4 linked regions of the Homo sapiens genome follow. The protein of the gene in region 2 interacts with the protein of the main gene of each other region in a pairwise test. Each region holds a gene or a part of one and is shown on either strand. Other genes may lie near its edges.

Region 1 (3,500 bases), on a different chromosome or scaffold from region 2:
TATACAATCCCAATGGATCATTCAGTATTAGCAAGTCTATTAATATAACTCAACATAATAGATCTAAGGGTAAATAATCATATGATTATTTCTATACATGCTGAAAAGGCCTTTAACAAAATTTAATATGAATTTCTGATGAATTAAAACTCAAGGATGTAGAAATTTATGGTTATTTCCTTAATATGAACACACACATATACATATGTTATGTATGTATGTATGATTCCCAAAGGCTATCATCTAACTGAATAGGAAAATATTCATTTCCCATTGCTTTTTGTAACCTTGAGACCACATGGTCCTTAAAAATATGAAAACATAATCAAATTACATTGTAATAAGATAAACTAAAATGTTTCTTACCTATGACATTTGCAAAAATTCTAAGTCTTGACTGCATGCTTTGTTGTCAATATAGCTTTATTGTCAAGCTATGAAAAAATAAGCAATTTCATATATATTGCTGGTAGGAATGCAAATTGGTACAATCCTTATGGAAGGAAATTTGGTAATACCTAACAAATCTATATGTGTGTTCACCCTCTGACCCAGAAATCCCAGTTCCAGGAATTTATCCTAAGTTAGATGTATAGCCTAGCATAAGCTGAACTTGAAAAAGATACATGCATGTGACTGTTCATGACAGTAGTATTTGTAATAGCAAAATATTGGAAACAACCTAATGGCCATGTTGGGAGGCTGGTGGTATATATGGTACATACTGGAATATTCTGCAGTTGGAAAAAAATAAAGATCTCTGAACTGATGTAGTATAATTTTCAGGACATATAATTAAGTAAAAAAATCAAAATGCAAAAAACATGTATAGTAGGTTATCTTGTGCAAGAATAAAGGAAAATAAGAATATATTTTCTCAAAAAGAAAAAGGATATTAAACTAATAAAATTGGTTACCTACAGGAATGACAGAAATGGGATAGAAAGGGTAGGGGAAGGGGATGGGACCTCTCTGAGTACATCTTTTCATATAGCTTCGACTTTTGAACAATGTTAATGTTTTATATATTGAAAAGACTTAGTAAAAAGCAAGAACAGAAGAAACACAAAATTAAATACAGACACACTTAACTGTATGCCACTAGGTTATATAATTACACAGAAAGAACAAAAAAAAATTCAAGTGATTCTGAACACAATATTTTGATTATACACCCTGAGTGGGATATATTCTAAAGGACGGAAGTATGGCAAAGGAATTTTGAACTTCATTTGTTGTTGGTGGTGTTGTCATAGCAATTCCAGTACTGTGTTGTATGTATTGTAGGATTCAGTAAGTGAGTAAATTCATTGATGTGTCTGTAACCCAGATTTGCACTGTGGGTGAAGGACAATACAAATATGGAATGAAAGAAGGAGATGAAAAAGTGTAATTCTACCTAAATTAAAGATAACTTTATAAATTTATTGGATGTTTTTAAAAAAGAAAACTACATTTCTTAGTTTTGTCACTGAAAGGGCCTAGACAATAACACTTCAGCATCAACAAACATTCCTAGCACCTGGACCTTGGTTTCTAAATAACACTCCCCTACCAATGGAAGCCTTGAAGAAACAGCTGATTCCAGGTTTGGGATAGAGGAAATACAAGGTTAGCAGGGAAAATCTTGTACCATGAAGTTTAAAAGTGCTTAAAAATTGATAGGGCCACAGAAGTTACCTTGAAGAGGCTCTCACTGGCCAAATCTGTAATAACTTTGGCATCAAAATGAAAAATAACAGGCCTGGATTACAACACACAGATTAATAAGAGTCCATAAGTGAATTTCTTTTCTTTTCTTTTCTTTTTTTTTGGAGACGGGGTCTCACTATATTGCCCGAGCTGGTCTCCAACTCCTGGGTTCAAGCTATCCTCCCTGCTTAGCCCCCCATAGATGAATTTCATATGAAAAAGATAAGACAAAAAGGAGGGGGGAGTTCAGTTAAATATTTATTTAAGTGGGGGAAAAAAGGGAATCTCTTTTTTATGGAGGAAACCCAACTGACAATAGCAGAAGGAAGAAGGAATGACAGAAAAATCACCATCTTCCAATCACCATGGTAAAAATTTAGGCAAGAAGTATCAATGGATGCTAAAAATCACTGGGAAAAAGGGTAATCACACAGTCTCACAGTATCTCCCTATGGATAATTTATAAACCACATGGGGCAGGTACCTTCACAAGGGAAAAAAGTCAGGCAGCCACACCTTCACCAAGTTATCAAATTTGGCATCACCAACTAGGGGATTCATGAACATCACTGTTTGTTGTTCATACACAAAAACCAGCTGAAGATGTTCACTGACACAAAAGAAACAAACAAAAAGCCGAGAGAACTATTCTTGATGAAAAGAGATTAAAGAGACAAGGCAAATAAATGCAACGTGTGGTCTCTGATAAATCTAATAAGCAATGACTGAAGAAATGAACAAAATAATAAAAAGTCAATTTATTTAATTCACAACATTAGCAGATAAAAGGAGTAAGTCACACAATCATCTCAATAAATACGGAAAAAGCATTAGATGAATTTCAACATCCACTTCTCATTTTAAAAAATCTCTTAGCAAATTTGGAATAAAGGTTTCTTAATCTCATAGAGCTTATCTACAAAAAAAGCCATTAGCAAACAGCACAATTACTGATGAGAAATTAAACATTTTCCTTTTTTTTTGAGACAGAGTCTGGCTCTGTCACTCAGGCTGGAGTACGGTGGTGCAATCTCGGCTTACTACAACCTCCACCTCCCAGGTTCAAGCAATTCTCCTGCCTCAACCTCCCGAACAGCTGGGATTACAGGCAACCGCCATCACGTCTGGCTAATTTTTGTATTTTTGTAGAGATAGGGTTTCACCATGTTGGTGAGGCTGGTCTCAAACTCCTGACCTCAGGTGATGCACCCACCTCGGCCTCCCAAAGTGCTAGGATTACAGGTGTGAGCCACCACGTCCAGCTTAACATTTTCCTTTTGAACTTGGGAATAATATAAGAATACCATCTTTGGTATCATCACCTCTTTAAAAAAAAAAAAAAAACTGTTGTGCAGGCACCAGCCGGCACAGTAAGATAAGAAAAAGAAATAAAGGCACACAGATTGAAGAGGAAGTAACAACACCGTCATTATTGGCAGGATTATGTGTGTTAGGTTGGTGCAAAAGTGAGTGCTATTTTGCCATTGCTTTGTTACAAAGCAATAGAGAACTAATCCAGACTTGAGCCTGGATTCTCTATTTTATTTTTTAAAAGGTCAGTTGGAACAACGCTATGTGCATTAGCTCTTCTGGTGGGAGCATTAAACAGCATTAAAAGTAATGGCAAAAACAGCAATCACTTTTGCACCAACCTAATAGAAAACCCAAAAGAATATATAAATTATTAAAATTTTTAAGTTTAGTTGAGTTCAAAATCAACACAAAATTCACTTTATTTCTATATATCAATAACAAACATTTCAAAATAAAAATTTTAAAACCCACTTGCCACACAACAAAAATATCTA
Region 2 (3,500 bases):
TTCCCAAAGGCTGAAGGGCCCTTCTCTCCATCTCTGTAGCTCCAGCCCTTCCCATCCTTGGTGGCTCAGCTCAGCTGCCACCTCTCACTGCCTGGAAACCTCTCTGCCCCACACATTCGTGCCCACGGCAGGCTCTGGTGACACTTTGCCATATCACCTGCCAGGACAAACTCCAAGTCTAGCACCTCTTGACATCTTGGTGCCCGAAGCAGATTTGGCCTTAACAGGACCCATGGTGTGTCTGCATCCTGCCAGCCAGCTGCCCCAAGGCTGAAGTCATTCCTGCTGTTTCCAGCAGAGGTCCAGCTTGTGCTCCACCTCCTTTGCTCTGCTGAAGGCCACCGGGTACTGGCCTTGCCCCGCCGCAGCCTCCTGAGCCGTCCCCCTGTCTTGTCCCCTCTCCTCTGCCCTCCACACACACCCTTCAGGGGCTCCATCACCTCTGGGCTAAATCCTCAGGCTGACTTTCACTGCCTGTGTGAATGGCCCGTGATCCTCCAGCCTCGTTCCCCACCTCTCGGCCTTTGTCCACGCTGTCATCCCTTTCCGGAAGGAAAGTCCTTCCACTACCCTTTCCACGGCTTAGCATCCCTGACTCCTCCTTTGGGCCTCAGCTCTTACACTCCCCCAACTCTGGAAGGCAGGGCTGACCACAGTTTCCTCTGGGCCACTTGGAGTTTTCCATGTCCTTCCACGTCCTCCCATGCCCTTCTGTGTCCTCCTGGTCTGCACGGTGCCTGTGGCTCAGTCCTCAGACCCGGATGATCTCATCCAGTCTCATGGCTCCTTTTGTGCTGACAGTTCCCAGACATCTCTCTTTAGCCCCAGAACTGCAGACTCAGCCCTCCATGGCCCGCTCGACCTCCCCACCTGGTATCTAATAAGCATCTCCAGTGTCATGTCCCAAACTGAACTCCTCAACTCCTCCCCAGTGCCTGCCCCAGGATGGACGCTGTGTCCTCCCAGGGACGCCAATGCTCGTCCACATCCTACCTCCCCTCTACCACTCCTGCATCTGGCCTCCAGCCAGTCCTGTGGCTCCAGCTTCACAACAGGCAGAATCCAATCATGTCTCCCCATCTGTGCTGCCTCCGTCCTGGTCTCAGCCACCTTCACTGCTCACCTTGGCTCTGACAGTAGCCTCACACTGAGTCTGAGTCTCTCTGCTCCCACTAGGTGTGACGGCCAGAGTGACGTTGTTCACATGTGAGTGAGGTCACTCACCCTTGGACGTGAACCCTGCACGACCCCATCTCACATACAGGAAAAGTCAGGTTGATAGAGAGGCTCACAAGGTCCTTGGGGTCCTGCCCCCCAACAGCCTCCTGACCTCACTTCCATCCACATGCACTCACTAATGTGTCTCCTTACACTATACTTTACTCTCTCTCTCTCTCCCTTTGTCTCTCTGTCTCTCTGTCTCTTTCCTTCTTGAGACAGAGTCTCGCTCTGTTGCCCAGGCTGGAGTGCAGTGGCACAATCTCGGCTCACTGCAATCTCCGCCTCCTGGATTCAAGCAATTCTTGTGCCTCAGCCACCTGAGTAACTGGGACTACAGGCACATGCCACCATGCCCAGTTAATTTTTCTATTTTTTTTTTTAACTTTTATTTTTTTGAGACAAAGTCTCACTCTGTTGCCCAGGCTGGAGTGCAGTGGCACAATCTGGGCTCACTGCAACCTCTGCCTCCCTGGTTCAAGCAATTCTCCTGCCTCAGCCTCCCGAGTAGCTGGGATTACAGGTGCGCGCCACCACACCTGGCTAATTTTTGTATTTTTAGTAGAGATGGGGTTTCACCATGTTGGCCAGGCTGGTCTCAAACTCCTGACCTTAGGTGATCCACCTGCCCCCCAACGTGCTGGGATTACAGGCATGAGCCACTGCACCCGGCCCTACTCATCCTTCTTGCTGATTGCCTGTCACCTCTGATAGACCGTAAGCTCCCCGCAGGCAGAAACTTTTGAGTGCTTTGCTCACCTCTGTCTCTATATCTGAGCCAGCACCTGATGCGGAGTTGGGTGCCCAATAACTCTTTGTCGACTCTCTGCTTACAGGGCCCTGTGCAGACGCACACACAGCACTGGCCTCAGATCTCAATCCCATCACCCCTCACCACACCTGAAACGCCATCATGAATCCTGTGGCCTGGCAAACCTATTCGTTTTCAGGAGTCTGCTAGCAAAATCCAGTAGCCCTGGGAAAGGAACACCTGAAGCTCCTTTTCTAAGAAACATTCGCTACGAAGCTACTGTGTTCAGAGGCCCACGTGTCCTTTACCGTACCCAGCACTGACTCTTTCATTATTGGGTGGGGAAGGAGAGGCTTAGGGACGCCAGGGGACGGCTGGGGCAGTAACTATTTACAAACTAGCTCAGAAGCAGCTCAATGTTTAGCAACCACTTTTTGGCTACGGCAGTGCGAACTGACAGAATGTATTTTTTTTCTTTTCTTTTCTTTTTTTTTTTTTAGACAGAGTTTTGCTCTTGTCGCCCAGGCTGGAGTGCAGTGGCACAATCTCGGCTCACTGCAACCTCTGCCTCCCAGGTTCAAGCAATTCTTCTGCCTCAGCCTCCCGAGTAGCTGGGATTATAGGCATGCGCCACCACACCTGGCTAATTTTTGTATTTTTAGTAGAGATGGGGTTTCACCATGTTGGCCAGGCTGGTCTCGAACTCTTGACCTCAAGTGATCCCCCCACCTCAGCCTCCCAAAGTGCTGAGATTACAGGCATGAGCCACCACGCCCAGCTATTTTTTTCTTTTTGAGACAGGGTTTCGCTCTGTCACCCAGACTGGAGTACAGTGGCAGGATGTTGGTTCTTTGCAGCCTTGGCCTTCAGGGCTCAAGCAATCCTCCTGCCTCAGCCTCCCAAATAGATGAGACTACAGGTGCGTGCCTCCATGCCTGGCTAATTTTTGTATTTTTTGTAGAGACGGGGTTTTGCCATGTTGCCCAGGCTGGTCTTGAACTCCTGGGCTCAAGCGATCCTCCTGCCTTGGCCTCCCAGAGTGCTGGGATTATAGGCTTGAGCCAGTGCGCCTGGCCTGAATATTTTTAATATACGTAGGCGTGTGGTTGTTCACAAGTACTTTTCACCGTGAACCACAATCGGAAAAGCTTTGATAATTATTGGATTCGAGGCTGGTGAGGGTGGGGAAGGCTAGGGGCTACTTTAGAAGGGGTGGTCAGAGGAGTGAGCTGTTTGGGGCTGGTTCCCTGAAAGCAGAGCGTGAAAGAGGGATCTGGGTGCATATGATTTCACTGCGGAGACTCTCAGAAGACAGAGAGTGAGCGCAGTGGGAAGCCGCAGAGCGAGCTTGAGCAAGGATGAACTCAGCCTCAGCCAGATCTCGCCGGGCCCTGGAGCATAAACTGCACCACACAGTGGTCCTGCTTGAGGCGAAGGGGCCAGTCTTTGTCCCCCATGGCAGGGAGTAATTGGCAGTGGGCCCCTGATGGTGGAAGAGAGGGTGCAGATAATACAGATCCTATACAGTCAA
Region 3 (3,500 bases), on a different chromosome or scaffold from region 2:
TAATGAGAGACCTATTGTGTCCTACAGAGGGACCTGCTGTTCTGAACTGATTCAGTGGTACAACCCCCAAGGCACAAGGAAAGAACGGGAGTTCTGAGCACACAGAGCATATGAGATGTACCTGGGCCTGAAGCCAGCTGTACACATTTCTATTTTGCTCCTATGGGGGTTTCAAAATTGTTTTTAATTGTTACTCACATGAAAAACACATCCACAATTTACCAAGAAAATGAATTTCTAGTTTCTCTTTAAACAGCAGAATATCTGGCCACTCTAGGCTGGAGCTGAGTGGTGGCTGACCCTTTGATGGGGCAAGAAAGCTCCAATTTGCTACAGGCCCCACCTGCCCACTTATTTATGTAAGACACTCAGAATGGTAATGCATAGCATACAGCAGGCACTCAATAAGTGCCAGCTATTGTTACTGACACTCAGAGCTCACTGGCTCTCTCCAGCATACTGAGTGTCCCCACCACCAACTGAATCCCAAGGGGAGGCCTCACCCCCGCTGGCTAGTCCCTCTATGGTCCTAGGGTGCCCTTCTGGGGCTTGGGCTCAAGATAGCCTCCTCTGCCTGAGGGGTCACCTTTGATAGAAAGCAGTTGGGCTGGTGGTTCAGAGTGTAGGCTCAGGAACCACACTCTGCAACGGAATCCTGGCTCTGCCCCTCATGAGCTGTGTTTCCTTGGACAACTGTCTTTCTCTTTCTAAGCCTCATATGAGAGGCAGGCTTCCTGATAACAATGTCCCCCTCCACAGGGTCGTAAGGTTAAATGTGTACAAATATGGTCCAAACACAGTGCCTCGTGTGATGGAGGAAGCTCTCAGTAAATGTCGACTCTTGCTATTATTTAATGTTGATATTTAATATATATCTTATGTACAACTGTAGATCCTTATATGATATTATTTGACCTTTTGGCCCAATGTATCTTTCAGCCAGCCCAGCTAATAATTCCTCCTTTTCTAAAAATTTAAACTACTTGATTGAGGTGTGACTGATATATAAAAAGCTGTGCATATTTAATAATATACATAACTTGATGAGTTTGCAGATGCATATACACCCGTGGAACCATCACCACCATCAAGGCCATAAACGGATCCATTACCTCCAAAAGTTCCCTCTCACACCTATATTTATTTATTTTACAAAATTGTAATACAACAATTCCTTCTGGAAGTCTTCCCTAAGTACACCCACCTAATTCACTCAACTATTCACTGAGCAGTCTCCAGGCACCAAGCCCAGACTGGCACCAGGGTTGTGCTGAGACACAGAACACAGCCTTCCAGGTCTGGGAGCCCATCGTGTTGGGACAGAAGTGCTAACAAAGGGCCTCTGAGTTCTCTGCACGTACGTGTCCAAGGCCCCTTTTTCTAGTACTCCATCTTTTTCGGTTTCCTGTCTAATGACACAAACCATTTCACCACAGGGAAAACGCTGAAACCAGACAGGCTCAATTTTTTTTAAAAATTGAATGTAATTACACTAGTAGTAATTAAAAAAAAAAAAAACTTAAACCAAAACTCCCAACCCTGTTGAAATAAAAACAATCAACAAATCTTTCTAAGTAATGTAGGTAAAAGAAGAATTCAAGGCAAGAATCACAGATGAGACAAAAATGAAGGCATCATGGTGCAATCGCTTAGGAAAACAGTCTGGTGGTTCCTTTACTGGTTCAACAGAGTTAACCATATGACCCAACATTCCACTTCCAGGTACACACCTAAGAGAACTGAGAACATATGTTCAAAGACTTATACATGAATATTCATAGCAGCATTATTCATAATAGCCAAAAAGTGGAAACAACCCAAATGTCCATCAACTGATGAAAGGATAAATAAAATATGTAGAAACACACACTGGAATATTATTCAGTCAAAAAAAGGAATGAAGCTCTATATGTGCTACCACATGGTTGAACCTTGCAAATATTATGCTGAGTGAAAGAAGCCAGTCACAAAAGACCACACCATGTATGATTCCATTTATTTGAAATGTCCAGAACAGTCAAATTCATAGAGACAGAAAGCTGATTACTGGTTGCCAGGGGCCGTGGACTGATGGGGGAAAATGGAAATGAGTGCCAATGGGTACTCGGCTCTTTTTCAGGATGATGAAAATATTCTGAAATGGACTGTGGTGATGGTTAACGCGACTCTATGAATGTACCCAAAATCAGTGAATTGTACACTTTGTGATACGTGATGTGTACCTCAACAAAGGTACCAAACAAATGAAGACAGAATAAACCAAAGCTCCCAAATAAGTCTACTGACACATTTATATAGCAAAATCAATTACAGGTAGATTCAAAAGTTCATTGTTAACATTCAAATGACAAATGGTGAAAAGGAAGAAAATATAGCTGCTATGTGACCTGTGGATGGAGAAACCCTTTCACAGCTTAAAGATGAAGAAAGACACCACAGTGGGAGAAACCAACAGATTTGATTTTAAAAATATGAAATGCTTTTATACAGAAAAAATAAAGTAAAATAAAGAAACAAAAAGCAAATCTGGGAAGAATATTTGCCACAAATATTTACACACACACATTTGCTTCTGTAAAGTCTTTAAAGCATACTCAGATTCCTGTAGACTGCTAAAGCACAAGATGGATCATTTCCCTGCCCACAGAAATGGCTAGTAAACATTTTCTAAGACTTGAACTTCACTAATAATACAAACAATGCTACTCAGAAATAAATCACGTGGCACCATTTGTCCCCTATCAGGCTCATCATGGTTTATAGCATTTGTCATTTATATCCATTTATCATTTATTATCATGGTGCAATATTGCACCAATCTAAATATATCCAACATGCAGAATAAATGCCTGACAACAGCCATATAAATCATCAGAGACCCGCTCAGACATGCTGGTGGGAATACATACCGCCGTAACTGATGTGGAAATAATATCAAAATACCTCAAAAATACCCAACCCAATCTTCCTCTTCAAGGAATCACTCCTAAAGAAATCATATAAGACACAAAGAAAGATTTGTGCCCAGTGTCCCTCATGACACTGTTTATAACCAAAAAAAGAATACTTGGAAACCAATAAAGGTCCAACAACAGAGGAACCATTAAGTAAACCAGGGTATGGCCACTGAACAACACTTTTATGGGGTCATTAAGATGGACGTTACAAAGGAGTTTTTAATGATGTGGAGAAATGCTCAGGATGAAATCTCTGATGAAAAAGCAATCTTTAACATTAAAATTGCTTAGCCAGACTCAAACATTCCAGAGTGATTATCTTTTGGGGTAAAATCATGGGTGAATTTGTGGGCCTCATTCCCATAAGCTTTTGTACTTTCATCACACATGTGGGCATTCACATTCACAAGAAGCATTTAGTGTGTTTGCCCATTTTAAAGGTCACACATCCAGCATGGTCCTGCGCAAGTTTTCACTCAATGTCACATGTCTAAACCACCACTTCCCACAGGTGCCCACCTGTGTCTCCTAAGAGTCCAGAGA
Region 4 (3,500 bases), on a different chromosome or scaffold from region 2:
TTTAAAAAGCTTCCTTAGTGATTTTATGTGCAGCTGGAGTTGAGAACATAAAAGCAGTAATTCCAAATTTGGGGTGGGAGAAGGTATAAAGGAAGGGGAAGCTCTTCAGATACTCTGCCCAAGCCCTCCTGTTCACTCCAGCAATGCCCAGAATCACTGCTGCTAATGGGAGAAAGGTTGGGATGGAAAGTTACATAGAACAGCCAGGCAGTAAACGAAGAACTTTTTCTAAGGGGGGTTGGAGAAAAGTAGGAAAAGTAGAAATTGCCAAACTTGCTTTTAGAACTATTTATTCTTTTTTTTTAAGTGATGTTTTTTAAACACCAGCATCAATAGGACAGAAGAAGACATCTGTTTTCCAATTAGCTGTGTCAGTAGATTCCATTCATTGTTTGTAGTTCCCAATCAGCTTTAAAAAAAAAAGTTTTTCAAATTTGCATACAAGTCATCTAAAATCAATAACAACTTGATCTAATTTAGAAAAATGAAAGAGTATCGTTCACTAAAGCAGATCTCTTTTGGGTAGATGGACCATCACAAAAGGAGCTCTTACATGCTTTTCCCACTCCCATCCCAAGTCCACCCTCCCACCAATTGTATTGTATAAATCAATAAAAAGCAAAGGTTCCAGAACAACTGAAAGAAAAATAATTCCAAACTAAGCAGAGTGAACTTTCCATTGGGAATGAAGACCCATGGGAAAAGGCAGCCCAGCCCATAACTCCTCCCTGCTGGAACACACACCGTAGGTGTAGGAACTGCCTGGGAATCCCATTAGAACACACTGTTTCTCAGGAAGAGAAAAAGCTGCATTACAAGAAAAGTTCTCAGGACTTTAGGAGTTCTTAGGACTGTTATTTCAGAGCTATTTATTACTGTTATTACAGAGCTCTTGTTATTTCAGAGCTACTGTAGCCCTTGGGCACAACCAACAGAAAGAGGCAAAGACTGCTGTTTCCTTTGATGAGGGGAAAGAGGTCCAGTCCCTTCCAAATGCCCCAGGACATGGCACAGTAGGGATGTCATCCAGCCCAGTTCTGGATCTGCACCATTTGAGGTTATAGTATCTTCATCTTTGGGACACAATTGCTGTTAGCTGAAATTGTGATTTTCTTAAGTTTTTTCACAGATCAATTAAAATGGTTTTTTTTTTTTTTTTTTTTTTTTGAGACAGTTTTGCTCTTGTTGTCCAGGCTGGAGTGCAATGGCGCGATCTTGGCTCACTGCAACCTCTGCCTCACAGGTTCAAGCGATTCTTCTGTCTCAGCCTCCTGAGTAGCTGGGATTACAGGCGCATGCCACCATGCCCAGCTAATTTTTGTATTTTTAGTAGAGACGGGGTTTCATCATATTGGTCAGGCTGGGCTCGAACTCCTGACCTCAGGTGATCCACCTGCCTCAGCCTCCCAAAGTCCTGGGATTACAGACGTGAGCCACCATGGCTGGCCTAAAATGCTTTCTAGAAGGGATTCTTCTGGACCGTTAACCACGTCCCCAAAGGAAAACCACACACACATTATTTAAGTACTTTCCATCTTCCTAGAGAAATTTAGTTACACTGTTGACTCCTTCCCTAAAGGGGAGGATTGAGGGAGACCTCTTCTTTTGCAAAATGCAATATAAAAAGCCAGGTAAGCAATAAACAGAAAACAAAAGTGAGGGATTTTTTTTGTTGGGTTGTTTGGTTTGGGAAGGGGAGGTGCTATGGAGGTTATTGTTGTGACATGTTGCTTCGAAATCTATAAACCACACAACAGGAACAACTGTTTTTCTGTTTTCTGTGACAAGGAGTACTGCAGGGACAACCTCACCCAGAGCTGCCTGCACGATGGTGCAAACATCTTCTCCGGCTATTCTAAAAGTAACAGGTATTCCTTCAAAGAAGCTGGCAGTGGAAGGCCCTTCACTGCATCGGGGAGATACTGGAGTCCCAGGCTACGGCGCACGGCATAGCGAGCGAGTGTTTTTAGAGTTCCTGGAGCTGAGCACAGAACAGTCAGTTTTTCACATAGCTGCGGGTCTCTGGCCACCTCTCGTGGCATGGTGCCATTTTTCCTCAATTCAAAGTGTCCAACAGCTCTGTGGAGGAGCTCAAAGCAAGAGTCCTCTTTCTCTGTTCCAAGTCCCCTGACTAGCAGAGCCACCAGGCGGGAGATGGGTGTCTGGCCTATTAGGTTGATGACTCTGACCTCTGCGCCATAATCCAGAAGGATGCTGACACTCTCAAGATTTCCCTTCATGGCAGCCCAGCTGAGCGGTGTATCATTGTTGTAATCCAGGGCATTGACAGAGGCCCCGCTCTCTAGGAGAGCCCGCACACACTCAGCATTGTTCTTAAAGGCTGCCCAGTGAAGTGGGGTATCTCTGTTGCCATCCAAAGCATTGGGGTTTGCACCATACTCCAATAGGACCTCCACACAAGCCTCATCTTTCTCTGCTGCATAGTGGAGGGCTGTTCGGTTATACCCATCCAGGGCATTCACCTGTAAAAAGGGAGGAACTATTACAGTAGACAGACTACTGAGAGGAAGACAGGACAGCAGCAAAGAAGCTTGCATGGTTACCCACTACCTTTGCTATGCAGTGCTCTGAACAGGAGGGTCAGCAAGCAACTCCCAGGGAGTCCTGGTGATAAAGATGAAGATATGACAGGAGCTTAGGAGCAAAAAGGAAAAGAACTGTCCTCAAACAGTCAACACTATTATGTGCACTGACTAGCTGGTCTGCATTATTTTGGTTTTTGCTGCAATGTTCTTTTATCTATTCATTAGAATCTCTACCACAGAGTAAGGGGTAAGGCAGGAATAGAGGAAGTCTAAGTCCCCGTAACTGCTCTGAAACATTACTGGAAAGCTGCTTGACTATACAGAGTTTTGGATTATTTTACTTACCCTGACCCTTTCTGTACCCTGTGGCTAATGTAGCAACCAAACTGAAAAACATAGCTTTTGCTAAGTTCTTTAACCATACAGAGAAATTCAAAATGTTAGAATATAAGTCAGACCTTTGCAAAAATATGCTGTGGGTTCACAAGAGAACCCAAATGAAAGCATGTGATAGGAAGAGCACAAATCTCCCAGTGCTGGAAAAGCAGCTGGCTTGCTGACAGTCAGCATCACCTGTAGTTTTTTTCTTCAAATTTCCAAATAGCATATACCCTCATTAATGAAAGACAAAAACAAAAAAAAACCCTGAAACATTTAAGTAAATTCAACCTTTTATTTGGCTAAAACCTATCTTAAGTACCACTTCTTAAGTACTTTAAGTACTTTTAAGGGTACTTTAGATTTAATCAGAGTTGAGGGATCTCTGCATTTATATCTCCTGGATAGACAATAAGCAATGAGAAGATTAAACGGAAATATAAACAGCCCCTACAAGGTAAGCTTCCTGAAGTGATGGCCAGTGACAGCTTAAGTTAAGGAGAAGAAAGAAAGGCAGAGTATCAGCACCATACAATGGGGGCAAGCAGGGTGGGGACAGAAAGGTAAAAGAATGAA

What was found.
Region 1: the proteins of RIN3 (region 2) and PLB1 interact in a two-hybrid assay, tested with the Homo sapiens proteins (one large-scale study listed by BioGRID and IntAct).
Region 3: the proteins of RIN3 (region 2) and ZNF71 interact in a two-hybrid assay, tested with the Homo sapiens proteins (one large-scale study listed by BioGRID and IntAct).
Region 4: the proteins of RIN3 (region 2) and ASB8 interact in a two-hybrid assay, tested with the Homo sapiens proteins (one large-scale study listed by BioGRID and IntAct).

The regions. Positions count from the first base shown.
Region 1 is NC_000002.12:28,499,060-28,502,559, reverse strand, and holds part of PLB1 (phospholipase B1, membrane-associated isoform 1 precursor), read right to left. Parts: intron 1-3,500. UniProt on the Homo sapiens protein: Calcium-independent membrane-associated phospholipase that catalyzes complete diacylation of phospholipids by hydrolyzing both sn-1 and sn-2 fatty acyl chains attached to the glycerol backbone (phospholipase B activity).
Region 2 is NC_000014.9:92,653,281-92,656,780, reverse strand, and holds part of RIN3 (ras and Rab interactor 3), read right to left. Parts: intron 1-3,500. UniProt on the Homo sapiens protein: Ras effector protein that functions as a guanine nucleotide exchange (GEF) for RAB5B and RAB31, by exchanging bound GDP for free GTP. Required for normal RAB31 function.
Region 3 is NC_000019.10:56,601,802-56,605,301, reverse strand, and holds part of ZNF71 (endothelial zinc finger protein induced by tumor necrosis factor alpha), read right to left. Parts: intron 1-3,500. UniProt on the Homo sapiens protein: May be involved in transcriptional regulation.
Region 4 is NC_000012.12:48,147,516-48,151,015, forward strand, and holds the end of ASB8 (ankyrin repeat and SOCS box protein 8), read right to left. Parts: intron 2,626-3,500; coding exon of another isoform or gene 2,602-2,625; exon of another isoform or gene 2,572-2,601; intron 2,484-2,571; coding exon 1,851-2,483; 3' UTR 274-1,850; downstream 1-273. UniProt on the Homo sapiens protein: May be a substrate-recognition component of a SCF-like ECS (Elongin-Cullin-SOCS-box protein) E3 ubiquitin-protein ligase complex which mediates the ubiquitination and subsequent proteasomal degradation of target proteins.